Regions from separate parts of the Homo sapiens genome. Here region 1 is linked to region 2. A link means that fine-mapping ties the variant in region 2 to the expression of a gene that starts in the linked region. Tissue or cell type: whole blood. Region 2 holds a variant in brackets; the other region holds the start of a gene. All regions are shown on one strand. Distances are between the middles of the regions.

What was found. PIP is the estimated chance that this variant, and not a neighbour inherited with it, causes the effect.
Region 1: ORC5 starts here. The variant in region 2 is fine-mapped to the expression of ORC5 in whole blood (TOPMed, PIP above 0.99).

The regions. Positions count from the first base shown.
Region 1 is chr7:104,203,201-104,211,298 of GRCh38, reverse strand. It overlaps ORC5 (origin recognition complex subunit 5), which reads left to right and starts at 3,286. Exons shown (of 14, transcript NM_002553.4): 1 at 3,286-3,466; 2 at 7,065-7,157. The coding sequence starts at 3,395. RefSeq lists enhancers at 3,108-3,267, 3,318-3,397, 3,438-3,627.
Region 2 is chr7:104,137,036-104,145,145 of GRCh38, reverse strand. The region is part of intron 12 of ORC5 (origin recognition complex subunit 5); the gene reads left to right. Among named protein-coding and RNA genes, the nearest start is that of ORC5, 67 kb to the left of the region's middle. The variant T/C (reference allele first, on the strand shown) is at 4,208.

The DNA of each region.
Region 1 (8,098 bases), 66 kb before region 2:
CAGAGTGTTTTCCAACTTGGTTCCATTCTCCCCGTCACTTTCAGGTACACCAATCAGACGTAGATTTGGTCTTTTCACACAGTCCCATATTTCCTGGAAGCTTTGTTCGTTTCTTTTTATTCTTTTTTCTCTAAAGTTCCCTTCTCACTTCATTTCATTCATTTCACCTTCCATCACTGATACCCTTTCTTCCAGTTGATCACATTGGCTCCTGAGGCTTCTGCATTCTTCACGTAGTTCTCGAGCCTTGGCTTTCAGCTCCATCAGCTCCTTTAAGCACTTCTCTCTATTGGTTATTCTAGTTATACATTCGTCTAAATTTTTTTCAAAGTGTTTAACTTCTTTGCCTTTGGTTTGAATTTCCTCCTGTAGCTTGGAGTAGTTTGATCGTCTGAAGCCTTCTTCTCTCAACTCGTCAAAGTCATTCTCCGACCAGCTTTGTTCCATTGCTGGTGAGGAACTGCGTTCCTTTGGAGGAGGAGAGGCACTCTGCTTTTTAGAGTTTCCAGTTTTTCTGCTCTGTTTTTTCCCCATCTTTGTGGTTTTATTTACTTTTGGTCTTTGATGCTGGTGATGTACAGATGGGTTTTTGGTGTGGATGTCCCTTCTGTTTGTTAGTTTTCCTTCTAACAGACAGGACCCTCAGCTGCAGGTCTGTTGGAGTTTGCTAGAGGACCACTCCAGACCCTGTTTGCGTGGGTATCAGCAGTGGATGCTGCAGAACAGTGGATATTGGTGAACAGCAAATGTTGCTGCCTGATCATTCCTCTGGAAGTTTTGTCTCAGAGGAGTACCCGGCTGTGTGAGGTGTCATTCTGCCCTTACTGGGGGGTGCCTCCCAGTTAGGCTGCTCAGGGGTCAGGGGTCAGGGACCTACTTGAGGAGGCAGTCTGCCCGTTCTCAGATCTCTAGCTGCATGCTGGGAGAACCACTGCTCTCTTCAAAGCTGTCAGACAGGGACATTTAAGTCTGCAGAGGTTACTGCTGTCTTTTTGTTTGTCTGTGCCCTGCCCCCAGAGGTGGAGCCTACAGAGGCAGGCAGGCCTCCTTGAGCTGTGGTGGGCTCCACCTAGTTTTAGCTTCCTGGCTGCTTTGTTTACCTAAGCAAACCTGGGCAATGGCGGGCGCCCCTCCCCCAGCCTCGCTGCCTCCTTGCAGTTTGATCTCAGACTGCTGTGCTAGCAATCAGCGAGACTCCGTGGGCGTAGGACCGTCGGAGCCAGGTGCAGGATATAATCTCCTGGTGTGCCATTTTTTAAGCCCGTCGGAAAAGCGCAGTATTAGGGTGTGAGTGACCCGATTTTCCAGATGCTGTCTGTCACCCCTTTCTTTGACTAGGAAAGGGAACTCCCTGATCCCTTGCATTTCCTGAGTGAGGCAATGCCTCGCCCTGCTTTGGCTCGTGCACGGTGCACTGCACCCACTATCCTGTGCCCACTGTCTGGCACTCCGTAGTGAGATGAACCCAGTACCGCAGATGGAAATGCAGAAATCACCCGTCTTCTGCATCACTCATGCTGGGAACTGTAGACCAGAGCTGTTCCTATTCGGCCATCTTGGCTGCCTATCGAGGCCATTATTATTCACTGTTTGGGAGACTGCAATAGTCGTTTCAACAAATGAAATTGATTCCACTTTCCACACTGTAGCCAGAAGGAATATTTCTAAGTCAAATCTCAACATTTGCTTCTCTGCCTACAATTCTTTATTGGTCCCCAGCCTGACCTCCTACTACTCTCCAGGTTTATATGTAAAAACTATTTGCTAGTTTCAGTTATGGGATTGCCCATTTGTCCCTTTTTGTCTGTACATTCTTTTGTTTACAATTTCCTTCTTGGTCTCACAGGTGAATCTTTTCTTCAGCCTCAGCTTCCAGGTTCTCTCCTCTGAGAAACCATCCTAAATCATCCAGATGGTAAGGCATGTTCTCTCAGATCAACAATTATCTTTATTATGTAACTGCCAGGCGTTAACTGTGTATGCTGGAAATTGAACTGTGAAGACAGTGTTTCCTGTCCTCATAAAGTATATAGAGAGGGAGACTAACATTTTAGACAGTTTAGTCAGTTTTATTGAATGCTATAAAGATGTCGTGTTATGATTATAATATATGTATACCTTATATGCACAGTATGTTACGGACGTATAACCATCTTAGGAGAGTATCAGAGGCCAGCTTCCCTTGGAGACATTGAAATTTAATGGGTGGTCCCATTATAACCTTTAGAATTCTCTATTAAAAAGTACCTGGGCAAATGCTTTTGAATTGTTGCTGTGAAAATACTATTTTGACTAGCTAATACGTTATATACCACAACTCTCAAAAGATCCTTTTGACCATCACAAATCTAAGACTGATCTACAATCTATGGGCAGATTGAAGTCCACAATTTAAATTTATGTATAACAGGTAGTATGTACAGGATCTTCTACTCCTAGCAATAACCTAGCCAGTATTATCCCTATTTTATAGATAAGGAAGTTGAGGCTCAACTATTCCAAAGTCCCCCTATTCAGCAGTTGAGTCAGTCAGTGGTCCCAACCCAGGGGTTTCAGGACGCCAAGCTCTCTTTCCACCATGCACTTGCCTACTTCTGTATCTTATTTCCAGAATCTTCTAGTGTTTAGTCGCTAGTAGGTGCCTCACAAATAAATACACGTGAAAGCCTAATGCTAAAAGTAGCATTATTTTTACTATCAACCTCACCAACACACACTACGACTTCATCCCATTAGGACTGAGAGGCTTTCCACATCTGGTTTAAAGCTTGCACAAAAAATAGTAATTCCAAGCTGTGCATTAAACCCCATTACACCCTGTTTTGTACTCAATGCCACTAATTTCCCACAACGTCGTCAGGGAAAAAAACGACAACAAAAACATCTTTTGACAATATTAGTCTTCTAAGTCCGCCTTCCACGTCCCTCTAAGGGCCCCAGCTCCGGGTCCGTCTTCTTAGGCACTCAAGGTTTCTAAACTTGGGGCTTCCAGCCGGTAAAACTAAAGGCACGGGGTTCAGGGGTCATTGGAGGCCCACGGGACCCCCTTAACCCCTTCCACCCCTTCCCTATTCGCCCATCTCCATGTCGTCTCCTTAGCCTTTGAGTGGAAAAAGCGTCAGCCCGAAATCCCCACCAAGCCCAAGAATGGGCAAAACCTCGGCGCGCACAGGACCAGCGAGAAGAGGATGGTTCCGGCCCTGAGACTAGAGCGGCGGCGACGCTCGGCGTACGCGCTGCCGTCACGCCGCAGCCCGGCAGCGCAGGCTCCTCCCACGACGCTGCGGGTCCGGTTTCCGGCGGGAGCGTGGGCCGCCAGACTCGGGAGAGGCTCCGTCTTGTGCAAGGGTCCTGTGGGCTGGCTGCACTGGCCTCTGCGGTGGTGCCTGCCAGAATGCCCCACTTGGAAAACGTGGTGCTTTGTCGCGAGTCTCAAGTGTCCATCTTGCAGTCCTTGTTTGGAGAGGTATTGTAGTTAAACTGTCTTCCAGATCCTGGAGGCAGACGTTTCGGTAGTCTTGCGACCTGTTCCAATATTTGTTTTTTCGTGTTTGGATTGAGGGCCAAAAGGCCGTTTTTACGTTAAATAGGGGTGTTGTGGTTCTGTACTGCAGCTTCACCCACAGTCTCTTCCGAATATTGAAGAGGAGACAGTCTGAGAGCGACCGGCCTGCACTATAGGACGTTGCCTAAGACGTATTTGAAACACGCCACACTTTTCAGAAGTTTGCCCACATTAGCTCCTAGAAGTTGCTTGTTATCTTACCCCAACCCAATGACATTTATGTAACAGATGTGTTTGCAGGGTGTTATTTATTCAAATGTAAGTTCACACGTTTCTGTGCGGTAGTTGGAGTGAGTCAAGTGTAGAGAGGTGGTTGCTTTCAAGGCCACTAAGGGCCAAAGCAGTGCTTCAGGTTTAAAAATTTACTGGCTTTTCCAGAATTGTAACAGTCCAGAAGAGGTCTAGGGTAAACTTTTCTCCTTAACTGATAGTTCACAGGATGCCCTAGAGAGGAGTTTGTCTTGTCTGGATGAACATAGATACGTAGGGAGTCCTTTCAATAGGCAGAGGGTAGCGTTCACCAATTCAAAATTTAACCTATTTTTGACTATTTTCTGGTGGTCTTTGATGTGCTTTTTGATTCAGACTCAATCAGAATTGGAATTAATCAAACTTGGATCTTACCTGCGAAGAGAGTGAATGAGAATTCAGGGTCATACTCATACCCCCATCTTCTGGTTTGCTTTTTTAAGTACAGTCATGCGTTGCTGCCACTTAGTGAGGGGGATACGTCCTGAGAAATGCATCGTTAGGCAATTTAATCCCTGTGAATATCAGAAAGTGTATTTACACAAACCTAGATGGTGTAGCCTGCTATACACCTAGGCTGTATGGTGTAGCCTGTTCCTCCTAGGCTATAAACCTCTACAGCGGTGCTACTATACTGAATACTGTAGGCAGTTGTAACACAGTGATAAGTCTGCATCTAAAAGTGTCTAAACATAGAAAAGGTACAGTGAAAATAGGGTATTATAATCTTATGAGATCACTGTTGTATATGTGGTCCATCTTTGAATGTACACGTGACTGTACTTTCATCCAACTAGAAATATTGCATGGCAATTTGAGGTGGCCTGTGAAGCATTAGTGGAAAAGTACTACCCTCTGTCTAAAGGGGTGCATTATTTAGGGAAGTTAGAGGTCAACAACTGCATCTTCAATTAATTTTCTATTTATACTGCTTTCAATTATAGTTATATTATTACTGGAGCATTTTCTTGATTATGTTCTCTGCATTTCATCTATGGAACGCAGATCACTCCAGCCAGAAATGTTCCTGCTGAAAGAGCAAATTGGCAAATAGGGATGAGTAAACTTAGTGGTGGATCACAGAAGAGTTTTTGACCTTTGCTTTTAATGAAAATTATGTTTAACAATATTTTAATATCAGTTTTCTGCAAGGTGCTGTGCATGTGGGAAATACAAACAACTATAGCAAAGAAATATAAAAAATTGGTTCATGTTTCTAAGAATACTCATTTATTTGTTCAATAAATAAATATTTACCGAGCACCTTTTCTGTGTCAGGTACTAGCTTATTGCAGTTTATGTTAGCGAGATTTATGAAGGTGAAAGGTTAAATAACAGTGGAACAGTTCAATATAATTCTAGGTCACAATAGAAAAGATGTTTAAGGTATTATTAGGCAACAACATGTAATGGATAGCAGAGATACTCAGCAACATGCATTTAATTCTTGAGACAGAATTTTTTGTTTTTGTTTTTTGAGACAGGGTTTGGCTTTCTTTCCCAGGCTGGAGTGCAGTGGCATGATCTTGGCTCACTGCAGTCTCTGCCTCCCAGGCTCAAGCAGTCCGCCCACCTCAGCCTCCGAGTAGCTGGGACCACAGGTGTTTGCCTCCAAGCCTGGCTATTTTTGTGTTTTTTGTAGAGATGGGGTTTCACTGTATTTCCCAGGCGAACTCCTGAACTCAAGTGATCTGCCTGCCTTGGCCTCCCAAAGTGTTGGGATGACAGGCTTGAGCCACTGCATCCTGCTGAGACAGAATTTTTGGGCCAGTTAATTTATGATTGTTACATATAAACTTCAGAAAAAGATTCATGTATTACATTACCTATTCATTTCAAGTAAATTTTTAGTCTATTTTTAGCAGTTGAGCTGCTTTTGCCATAGCTGTATGCCATTTAGAAAGTCTTTTTCCTGCGTAAATCTGAGTTCCTGATTTGTCTTGTAAAAGGAAATGTTTAACTTAGTGACTTGAATGTAATAAATGTTTGTGACTGTTGCTGTAATCGATGATAATTAATAGAGACTTAACTTTCTGATAGAAATTGCATAATCCCATTTTCTTGTAATTATTTAAAAAAATGTATTATTAAAAAATAGGCCAGGCACAGTGGCTCACACCTGTAATCCCAGCACTTTGGGAGGCTGAGGCAGGCAGATCACAAGGTCAGGAGTTTGAGACCAGCCTGACCAACATGGTGAAACTCCGTCTTAACTAAAAATACAAAAATTAGCTGGGTGTGGTGGCACACACCTGTAATCCCAGCTACTCAGGAGGCTGAGGCAGGAGAATCGCTTAAACCCGGGAGGCAGAGGTTGAAGTGAGCCGAGGTCACGCCATTGCACTCCAGCCTGGGTGACAGGGTGAGACTCCATCTCAAAAAAAAAAAAAAAAAAAAAGAGTATTATTAAAAAATCAAGTTTTCCCGTAATTATTTTAAAAATGTAGACTATAATTTCCTCCAAAGTAGATAATGTCTTTTACTGTTATTTGTTCTCTTCAGTACCTCATGGTTTTCAGCATTTAGTAGGTATCTAATGAAAGCGTTCATTTAAGGAATGAAGTACAAGTATTTGTAGTATTAACTAGACCAGAGAGACCTTTGACAATATTTACTTTTCTCTAAGCTGCTAACCTAATGTACTGCAAGAGGATCTTGCACATATGTATTTTAAAATAAATGCTATGCAGATTTTATTAGTGTTTTATGTGATCTAATGTATGCATTTATGCCAGCATCAGTGAGTATGCATAGTTCAGAAGTAGTCTATAAGTTTTCCTAAGAATGAGGACCCTTGAAATTCCTTTTAATCTTTTGATTATATGTACTTTATTTCATAGCATTAAAATGTATAGTGAAGTTGTGGCATCGCAGGAGATAAGAGTCTTTAAGAAGGAGTAATATAAAAATGGAGTATGAACAAAATTATCCTTGAAAAATCTCTTAAATCTGCTATGAAGTTGAAAATACTAGTTTGTATATGTAAACCTGTACGATAATAAAAATATAAATATATAGTACATAATAAAATATGCCAAATATGTTACATACATTTTAATTTCATAACAAAGAAAGTGCTTAGAGTTGAATTCAAGTAGGTTCAAAGTGTGTTGATGCATCCACAATATGCTCATTGTTAGGAATTTGGATTGAATATTTCACTTTTCCACGTACAACTTTCTCACAAGTTGATAAGTGTTTATTTTCTATTTTGTATGTGCAGCCTCATATTTGTCTTTTCTCTCGTTAGAGACATCATTTCAGCTTTCCATCCATTTTTATTTATGGACATACTGCTAGTGGAAAGACCTATGTAACACAAACGTTGTTGAAAACTTTAGAGGTAAGAATAAAAATATTAAATATTTCTTTGCCATTTTTAGTGTATAATATTGGTACTGATAATTGTGAATCTCCACAAATGCAAAATTGAACATACCACCTTTACATTACTCTCCTTCCCATATTATCTTTCTCCATGAATGGTCTACTGTCATTGACACAGTTGTCCAAACTTGCACTTTCTTAACTCTTTCCTCATCTTCCCTCATTTAGTAAATCACATCAATAAACTTAGTCTGTTGCTTCACATTGTTAAAATCATGTCTCCATCTACCTTTAATCCTAGCCATTGCTGCTAGGATTTTCATTTACCATTGTTTTTTTTCCATGTATTTCTGTAAGCCTCTTATTTGCAATCTTCACCCAGCAGCTAGGCCATGCAAATCTTAATATTTTCAGGACAGTGTTCAAGTAATTCGCCCATTGTATAAGACCTTTCATGAGCTGAATTTATCTTTCATAACACAGTGGTTAAGAGTTTGGGCTGTGGAGTCTGGCAGACTCATGTTCCTTTTTGGATTCACCAGTTAGTGCTTTCTCCATCTGCAAAGTTGGCTCATAGTGACAACATTTGGGATTAAGAGAATTAAATGTTAGCACATGGAAAGTGCTTTCTGCAGTACATAGTGCGTAGTAAGCACTCAATAAAGGTTAGCTGCTATTATTGATGAGTATTGCCATACTCCCTTTCATATCCTAAACCAGAGATGGGCAGTCTTTTTCTTAAGGGCCGGATAACTAACATTTTGTGCTTGTGGACCACGTAGTTTCTGTCTCACCTGCTTGACTCTACTGTATTGTGAAAGCAGCCATGGGCATTCTCTATGTGAATGGGCATGACTGTGTTTCAAAGCAACAGTATGTACAAAAACAGGTGGCTAGCCCACAGGCTTTGGCTTGCTAACCCCGTCCTCCTCTAGCACTGAGGATGCACGTTTAGGA
Region 2 (8,110 bases):
AGTTTCCAAACTAAGAAGGCTATTTGTCTTATCTTGGTTTTCAGCAATATTTACTGTCCCCCAAAGACCCCTGTATCCCTTGGTTGCCCATCCTGTTCTGTGTCTTTTTCCTGTATAGTAAAGGTCTCAGGCAGTTAGATGGGAAAGGCTCGGCCCCACCTCTCCCTTATTTATGCATATACATGCATGCATGTGAAACTGAGACACCACGATGAATCTGAGTACTCATTGTCTAGAGACTTTTTGTCAGATCCACACTGACCATATCAGACTACATAGGTATTAATACTAGCCTGGAGATCTGAGTTCATATTGTCATGAACATTTAAAGTGGAGCAAGGAAGTAAATAAGTATTTTTTATGATCCTGTTCATTATTTATTTATTTGTGAGACGGTGTCTCGTTCTGTTGCCCAGGGTGGAGTACAGTGGCACGATCTCAGCTCACTGCAATCTCCGCCTCCCAAGTTAAAGCGATTCTCCTGCCTCAGCCTCCAGAATAGCTGGGATTACAGGCACATGCCATCACGACCGGCTAATTTTTTGTATTTTTAGTAAAGACGGGTTTTTGCCCTGTTGGCCAGGCCTGTCTCGAACTCCTGACCTCAGGTAATCTGCCTGCCTCGGCCTCCCAATGTGCTGGGATTACAGGTGTGAGCCACTGCTCCCAGCCTCATTTTTAAATGCACAGTACCTAGAGTAAGTCCTCAAGAGTTTCATGGATATATAGTTGGAAATAAAAATTAGCCAATTTAAGGATTGGATAATAGAAAGGAAGGTGGATATTCTGCTATTTATGCATATATAGAAATAATTTTTAAAGTTTTATATGTATTTTTCCAGTAGTTTTCATTTAGTAAGTTAATAAACTAATACGTTTGAGATTCAAAATGTTGACTCCACTAATTAATCTTTGTGCTTGATTTTGTTTTCAATTTTACTCTAGCAAAATTTTAATAAACTGGGAAAGTACCTTTAAATATTTGGTACATTTGTTCACTCCTTTTTTTATTTTTATTTTTATTTTTGAGACAGAGTCTTGCTCTGTCACCCAGGCTGGAGTGCAGTGGTGCGATCTCAGCTCACTGCAACCTCCACCCCCTGGGTTCAAGCAATTCTCATGCCTCAACCTCCCAAGTAGCTGGGATTACAGGCACGTGCCACCATGCCCAGCTAACTTTTGTATTTTTAGCAGAGACGGGGTTTCACCATGTTGGCCAGGCTGATCTGAAACTCCTGGCCTCAAGTGATCTACCTGTCTCTGCCTCCCAAAGTGCTGGGATTACAGGTGTGAGCCACCGCACCCGGCCTGTTCACTGCTTTATGTAATAGATATTCTTCTGAATATCTATTATTTGTATATTTGTGTACAATTTATATATATGAATATTTTTATGTTGAGTTTTTCAGTGATTTTCACATGATAAAGTCAACAAATGACTGAAATGAGTTTTTTTAATGTGAAAAATCACATTCTAATTTAATTGCTTTTTTTAGGTTTAGTTCTTTTAATGTATTAGCTTTTCCTAAATCATCCCTACCCCTAAAAAAATTGATCAATCATCTTATTAATATTTTGGAAGTTCCTTTTAGCTGCTGCATCTTCAGCTGAAGTGATATTATATTCTTTGCACAATTTACATGATTAATTTAGCCGGGGAATCTTGGTAGAACTGAAAGTGACTTCAAGGGCTTGTTTGTTCCAACTTTCTGCCTTTGGACATTTGTTACAACTAATGTGCTAAAAGTAAAAAACTGTAAGGCATCTGAAAATATTCTTGAGACCCTAACTTAACTATATTAAAGACAGATTTTGTGTTTTTCTATGAAAAAATTGTGGAAAAAGTAATTTAGCATACAATTTCGATTAAAGAATCTAAATATGTGAGTGTTCGAATTAACAGGAAAGTATCAGTTATGAGAAATATTATAAGGAAATGTCAGTGGCAAAGTACAGGGTAATTAATGTTTTCTTCTGTATTAAAAAAAAAGTACTAAGGGGAACTGCCTTTAATAATAGAGTTCAATGCATGATTTTTCAAATAGCTATTACTAACCTATTTTAGCAAACGAATCCCTTACAGAAAAATAGAAAGGGTTGAAGTTAATATACTTAGCAATAAAAGACTATGTTCACTCTTCACTACATATCTTCCCATTCATTAAAATTTCAGGCCTACTGTCATTATAGATTTCTACCTGTTTCCACACTGGGAAGGCTATTGAATTTGTCTTGTCTTGGGTTTTAGCAGTACTTACTCTCCCACGAAGACTCCTGGATCCCTTGGCTGTCCATCCTTTCTGTGTCTCTTCTTTTCATAGTAAAGGTGTCAAACAATTAATCTTTTAAGAGATACGAGCTCAGGGCCTGCATTTTATCATTATTAAGTGAACCTTTCTTTAAACCTCATTTCATGTCTGTTTTGTCTGATGTTTAACATATTTTCATCATTGTTCGTTTTATTAGAATTTGTGTGACATATCTCAATTTTGTCTTTGACCTTTAACTTTCACATGTGCTTCCATTTTATATGTATCTCTTTTAAACAAAATGCAGTTTGATTTTTTCAGTCTTTTTATTTTATTTGAAGCATTTCATTTACTTTTAATACAATTGTTAATATAATTTTGTTTCTATTATCTTGTTTATGCCATTTGATTTACCTGATTTTTTTTCTCCCATTCTGTAGATTGCCTTGTCATTTTATTGGTTGTTTCCTTTGCTGTGAAGAAGCTGTTGAGTTTGATGTAGTCTCATTTGTTTATTTTTGCTTTTGTTTCCTGTGCTTTTGGCAGCCTATCCAAAAAAATCATTGCCAAAACTAATATCAGGGAGTTTTTTTCCCTACGTTTACTTTTAGGAATTTTATTGTTTCATGTCTTACATTTAAGTCGTTAGTCCATTTGAATTAATTTTTGTGTATGGTGTAAGATGAGAGTTCAGTTTTATTTTTTGTGCATGTGGATATCCAATATTTCCAGTACCATTTATTGAAGAGACTATCCTTTTCCCATTGTGTATTTTTGGTACCCTTGTCAAAGATTAGTTGACCTTATATGTGTGGTTTTATTTCTGGACTTTCTGTTCTGTGGATCTGTGTGTCTGTTTTTATGCCATTACCATACTGTTTTGATTACTGTAGTTTTGTATTAATAATATACTTTGAAATAAGGAATTGTGATACCTCTAGCTGTGAAAAATGCCATTGGAATTTTGATGGGGATTGCATTGAATCTGTAGATTGCATTGGGTAGTATGGACATTTTAAAAATCATAATTCTTCCAGTCCTTGAACACAGGTATCTTTTCACTTATTTGTGTCGTCTTGAATTTCTTTCATCAGTGTTTTATAGTTGTTAGTGTATAAATAATTCACCTTCTTGATTAAATTTATTCTTACATGTTTTATTCTTTTTGATGCTGTTGTAAGTTAGATTTTTTTAAATTTCGTTTTTTGATAGTTCATTGTAAGTGTATAGACATGTTTGTTGATTTTTGTATTCTGCAACTTTACTGAAAGCATTTATTAGTTCTAACAGCTTTTTGGTGCTCATTTATAGTTATAAATATTTAGAACATCCCTGTGTGGCTGAAAGATTATTATGATGATTTTTGGTTTTGAAAATTGAGGTCCACATTGTTGAACTGACCAGTCTGAAGTCTACTGCTAGCAAGTGGCAAAAGATAGATCTTACTAACTTTAAATGTTTTTTTCTCTTAAACTATGTTCTCTCTCTTCTGAAATCAGAAGATTAAGTGTGGAATCTGAATGGGCCCAGTGGTGAGAGTGGGAATGAGGTAATTGGATGATCTTAATACCTTAAGTGACAGCCAGGCAGCTCCACCTCTACGGTGAATACAAATTTGTAGCATATACCAGATTTCTAAGTTAATGGGCAAAGAGTCCTGTATCTTAGTGCTAGAGGCATACTGCTGGGTTTATTCTGTTGAATGCTCCCTTTATGACTATTTTGCAGATCATCCTAATTCTTTTAGCACACACTCTTTTCAGGCCGGAGTATAATACATCTGTTAGATCTGCACTTTCTTAGCTGTGATCACAGCTTATGCATGTTTTTTAAAAGTTTTGGAGTTGGAGTTAGGAGATTTAATTCCTAGTCAGGTGAGTTTCTGGCACCATCTGGGCATTACCACTTTGATCAAGTTACTAAACATCTTAGTTTTAATGTTGGTTAAATTAACAATT[T/C]GAATCTAGCAATCTTCTAATGCAGAGGTCAGCAAACCTTTTCAGTAAAGGGATACATAGTAAATATTTTAGACTTTGCAGGCTAAAAGGCAAAATGTAGGATATTATGTAGATACCTTAATAAGTAAGAGAAAAAAACTCTTGTTGCACCCTACCTCATTTGCCTGGGGTAAGTCATCCCACATGGTGGGCATGCTTTGTGCTCTGTTGTCATCAGCTGGAGACATTCTTGGAATAAAGCAAGAAGGGGCCTGGTGGGCAGAACAGGCAGGGTGGCCACCATGGTCATTTTCACTCTGTCACAGTGACACCCAGGTTCCCATGCACCCTTCTTTCCTCCCAGAGAACCTAGCTGCCTCAACAAATTTCAGAGGATTGCTAGTATGCAGATCACATTCTGTGATCCCCCAGAAACAAAACAAAAAACTGGAAAAACTCTGTAAGTTGGAAATAAAGGAGGACTTCCAAAATAGCAAGAGAGCCGAAAAAGAAATCAAAATGGACATTCGAATTAAAAGGACTATAGAACTACTTACAAGGTAGTGAAAGTAAAAAGAGATAAGAAAATATAATTACAACAAAAGGTAAGAAAGGAATGAGAAAAAGGAAAGGAGGGACAAATAGGTCAATATAACAGTAGAAAGAAAAATTTTAGAAAATCATTAGATATATTAAAAACAAATGGAGTCTATGGTCCTAATGAAAGGTAAAAGTTGTCAGACTGATTATAAAAACAAAATCCCACTATATGTTATTTACATGAGAACTGTTTTAAATTGAGAAAACATCAACCTTGAAAGTAGAATCATGAAAAGTAACAGAAAAAGGCAGAGCACATAAAGGAATGCTAATATAGCTATATTAAGATTAGAAAAAAATACACTGTAAGCTAAGACATTACTGGAGAATAAAAGGGTTATTATAATGAAAAGGTTTGTCAACAAAACGTAATTTTAAATCTGTATGTATGTTACCTAGTAACATAGCTTAAAAACTACAAAGCAGAAAGATTCTATGATAACAAAAGAATTTTAATACCTCTCTCAGTTTTGATCAGGCAGATTTTAAAAATGGTGTATATAAGATTTAACAATACAAATAATGTCTTTGTTACATATGTGTCTTGTGTAATAGACATATATGTAACAAAGCAATAGACATGTAACAAAGAACATAACATTTGCAAAATACATATTCTTTTCAACGCACAATATTTATAAAAGATATTTCAAGGTGTAACCTAATTATTGATACTGAATTAGAAATTAAAGTCTTAGCCTTTTGAATGCAGAGCTTTGTATTTTGATGTATTAATATAAATTGCTTTTCTAGTTGAAATATTTCTTATTTACTGAATATAGGATTTTCTCTACATAAGATACTCTATATGAGATATTTATTATCTGTTCACCCTTTAATTTGTTAGTAAAGTAATCGACTAAATACTGCATGATAATTTTCCCTTTAAAATGGTAATGGGAAATGTAATATAGTAAGATGATCATGGTTTCTTGAATTCTTGCTAAGCCAGTAGATCTGGAATATGGAGAAAGTTACTTAAGATCTCTAAGGCTTATCTATAAAAAAAAGTATAATAATGTCCACCTTGTGGACATGAAGGTAATGAGGAATAACATGAGATAATGTGTATAGAGTACTTAATACCAAGCAAATTACTACTGCTGTTAGTGTTTTTATTATTCATGGGATGTTTACTTAGCATTTGTAAAGTATTAGTCTCAAATTAAGTGAGCATTTTAATTCCTAAGACACATGATTAGGTATTACAGATAGTTTAACTTAAAACTCTTATTCATATTGCCACTGAGCAGTTACAGGTAACTAAGTCTCCAAATTTTATCTTACTGCCATTGCTGACTCTTTTTCCTGCTGGCTTATGGGAGACAAAAATAAGAAATTAGGAGAAGACAATGGGCGCTCAAAGAATTTCAGCTCTTGGATCAGCTTCCTTTCTTAGATTTCAGAGAACTTAATATTTTAGTTGGCCATATGAATGTTAAGTGATTTTGTACTTTGATTTTGACCTATCAAAATACACTTTTGCTTTTACTAATAATCCTTCTGGTGTTTTCCTGAGTACACGATCAGCAATAAGTTTTAAAGCAATGGTTGGGTGCGGGGGCTCACGCCTCTAATCCCAACACTTTGGGAGGCTAGGCAGGTGCATCACTTGAGCCCAGGAGCTCAAGAGCAGCCTGGACAACATGGCAAAACCCCATGTCTACAAAAAATACAAAAAATTAGCTGGGTGTGGTGGCATGTGCCTATAGTACCAGCTACTCAGGAGGCTGCTGTGGGAGGATCACCTGAGTCTGGGGAGGTTGAGGCTGCAGTGAGCCATGATTGCGCCACTGCAATCCAGCATGGATAATGGAGTGAGACCCTGCCTCAGAAAAAAAAAAAGAAAGAAAAGAAGGAAAGAAAGTTTTAAACCAAGACTAAGCCCAGGTCTGAAGGATGTATTTCTTATCTCTCATCTAACCAGCTACCTAACTCTTAAAAAGACCTAAATCCATATTATTGTTTTATACCCAAAGGAGTATAGATTTTATATTCTGAGTTATTTAGATAGATATTCTGTAAAATTTTTAGAGGAGGAATGTGCTTTATTTGCAGCTTTTAAAGGTTTAGCGGTCATGTGTCTGAGTAATGAAACAAAGCTGTCTCTAGTGGAATTCTTAGGGACTGATTGTTTGAATCAGTTGTTGAGCTAGGAATCTTGGTTGGGCTGAGTGCAGTGACTCACACCAGTAATCCCAGTGAAACAGGAAAAGTTCCCTTGTCCCCCTTCCAGGGGTAGTGGCTTGCTTCTTCAGTGTCCCGCTGCTCAAACCTCTAATGGGAGCATGCAGACGGGCAGGTTGTGGGGCTCCAATCTCACGGCCGCATCTAGGGATGAATGCTTACAGCTCCTGAAGCCGCAGTGGGCGTGTTACAGTGTGCTCTTTTAGTTTTGCCATCTATAGGTGGCTTGTGTTAGCTCAATTAGACCCTCTGCCTTATTGGAAGGAGAGAGGGCTTTCTGTATCCTTAGTTCTTGCCTTGCTGTACCGAAAAATCCGATCAAATGTGGGCTTGGAAAATGAGTGCAAGGTTTTATTGAATAGTGGAAGTAGCTCTCAGCAGATGGTTGGGGAGCCCGAAGGAGGATGGAGTGGGAAGGTGGTTTTCCCCTGAAGTCTAGCCGCTCTTGGCCAAACTCTGTGTTGTCCCACCGTAGGTGGCCTGCTGGCATCTGCTGGTGTCTGCCGGTATGTTGCTCTCGATGTCCAGCCGCTTGCTTGTTCTTCTGCCAGTGTATTCCTCTTAACGTCCAGCCACTTGTATCTCTACCTGCTAGGGTCTCGGGGTTTTTATAGGCACAGGATGGGGGCATGGTAGCCAGGGTGGTCTTGGAAAATGTAATATTTAGGCACAAAAACTGAAATGCCAGCCCTTACCTAGGTCTGTGGGCTCAGACTTGGAGTGGAGCACTAGCCAGGGACCATGGCCTTCTCTGCCCAGCACTTCCCTGCCCCCCTCCTGTATCACCGACCCTTTGGGAGGCCAAGGCAGGAGAATCACAAAGCGAGGAGTTCAGGACCAGCCTGGACAACACAGTGAGACCCTGTCTCTACAAAACAATAAAAAATTGTTTTTTTTTTTTTTGTAGGCACATTTAAAAAATGTGCCTGTAGTCCCAGCCACTTGGGAAGACTGAGTTGAGAGGACCACTTGAGCCCAAGAATTTGAAACTCCAGTGAACTGTGATCAAGCCATGCCACTCTAGCCTGGGTAACAGAACGAGACCATATCTCTAAGAAAAAAAAAAAAAACAAAACTAGGACTCTGACAACTAGTCTTGGTTGTTAGACTGGAAAACATATGTACAAATTTGTATTT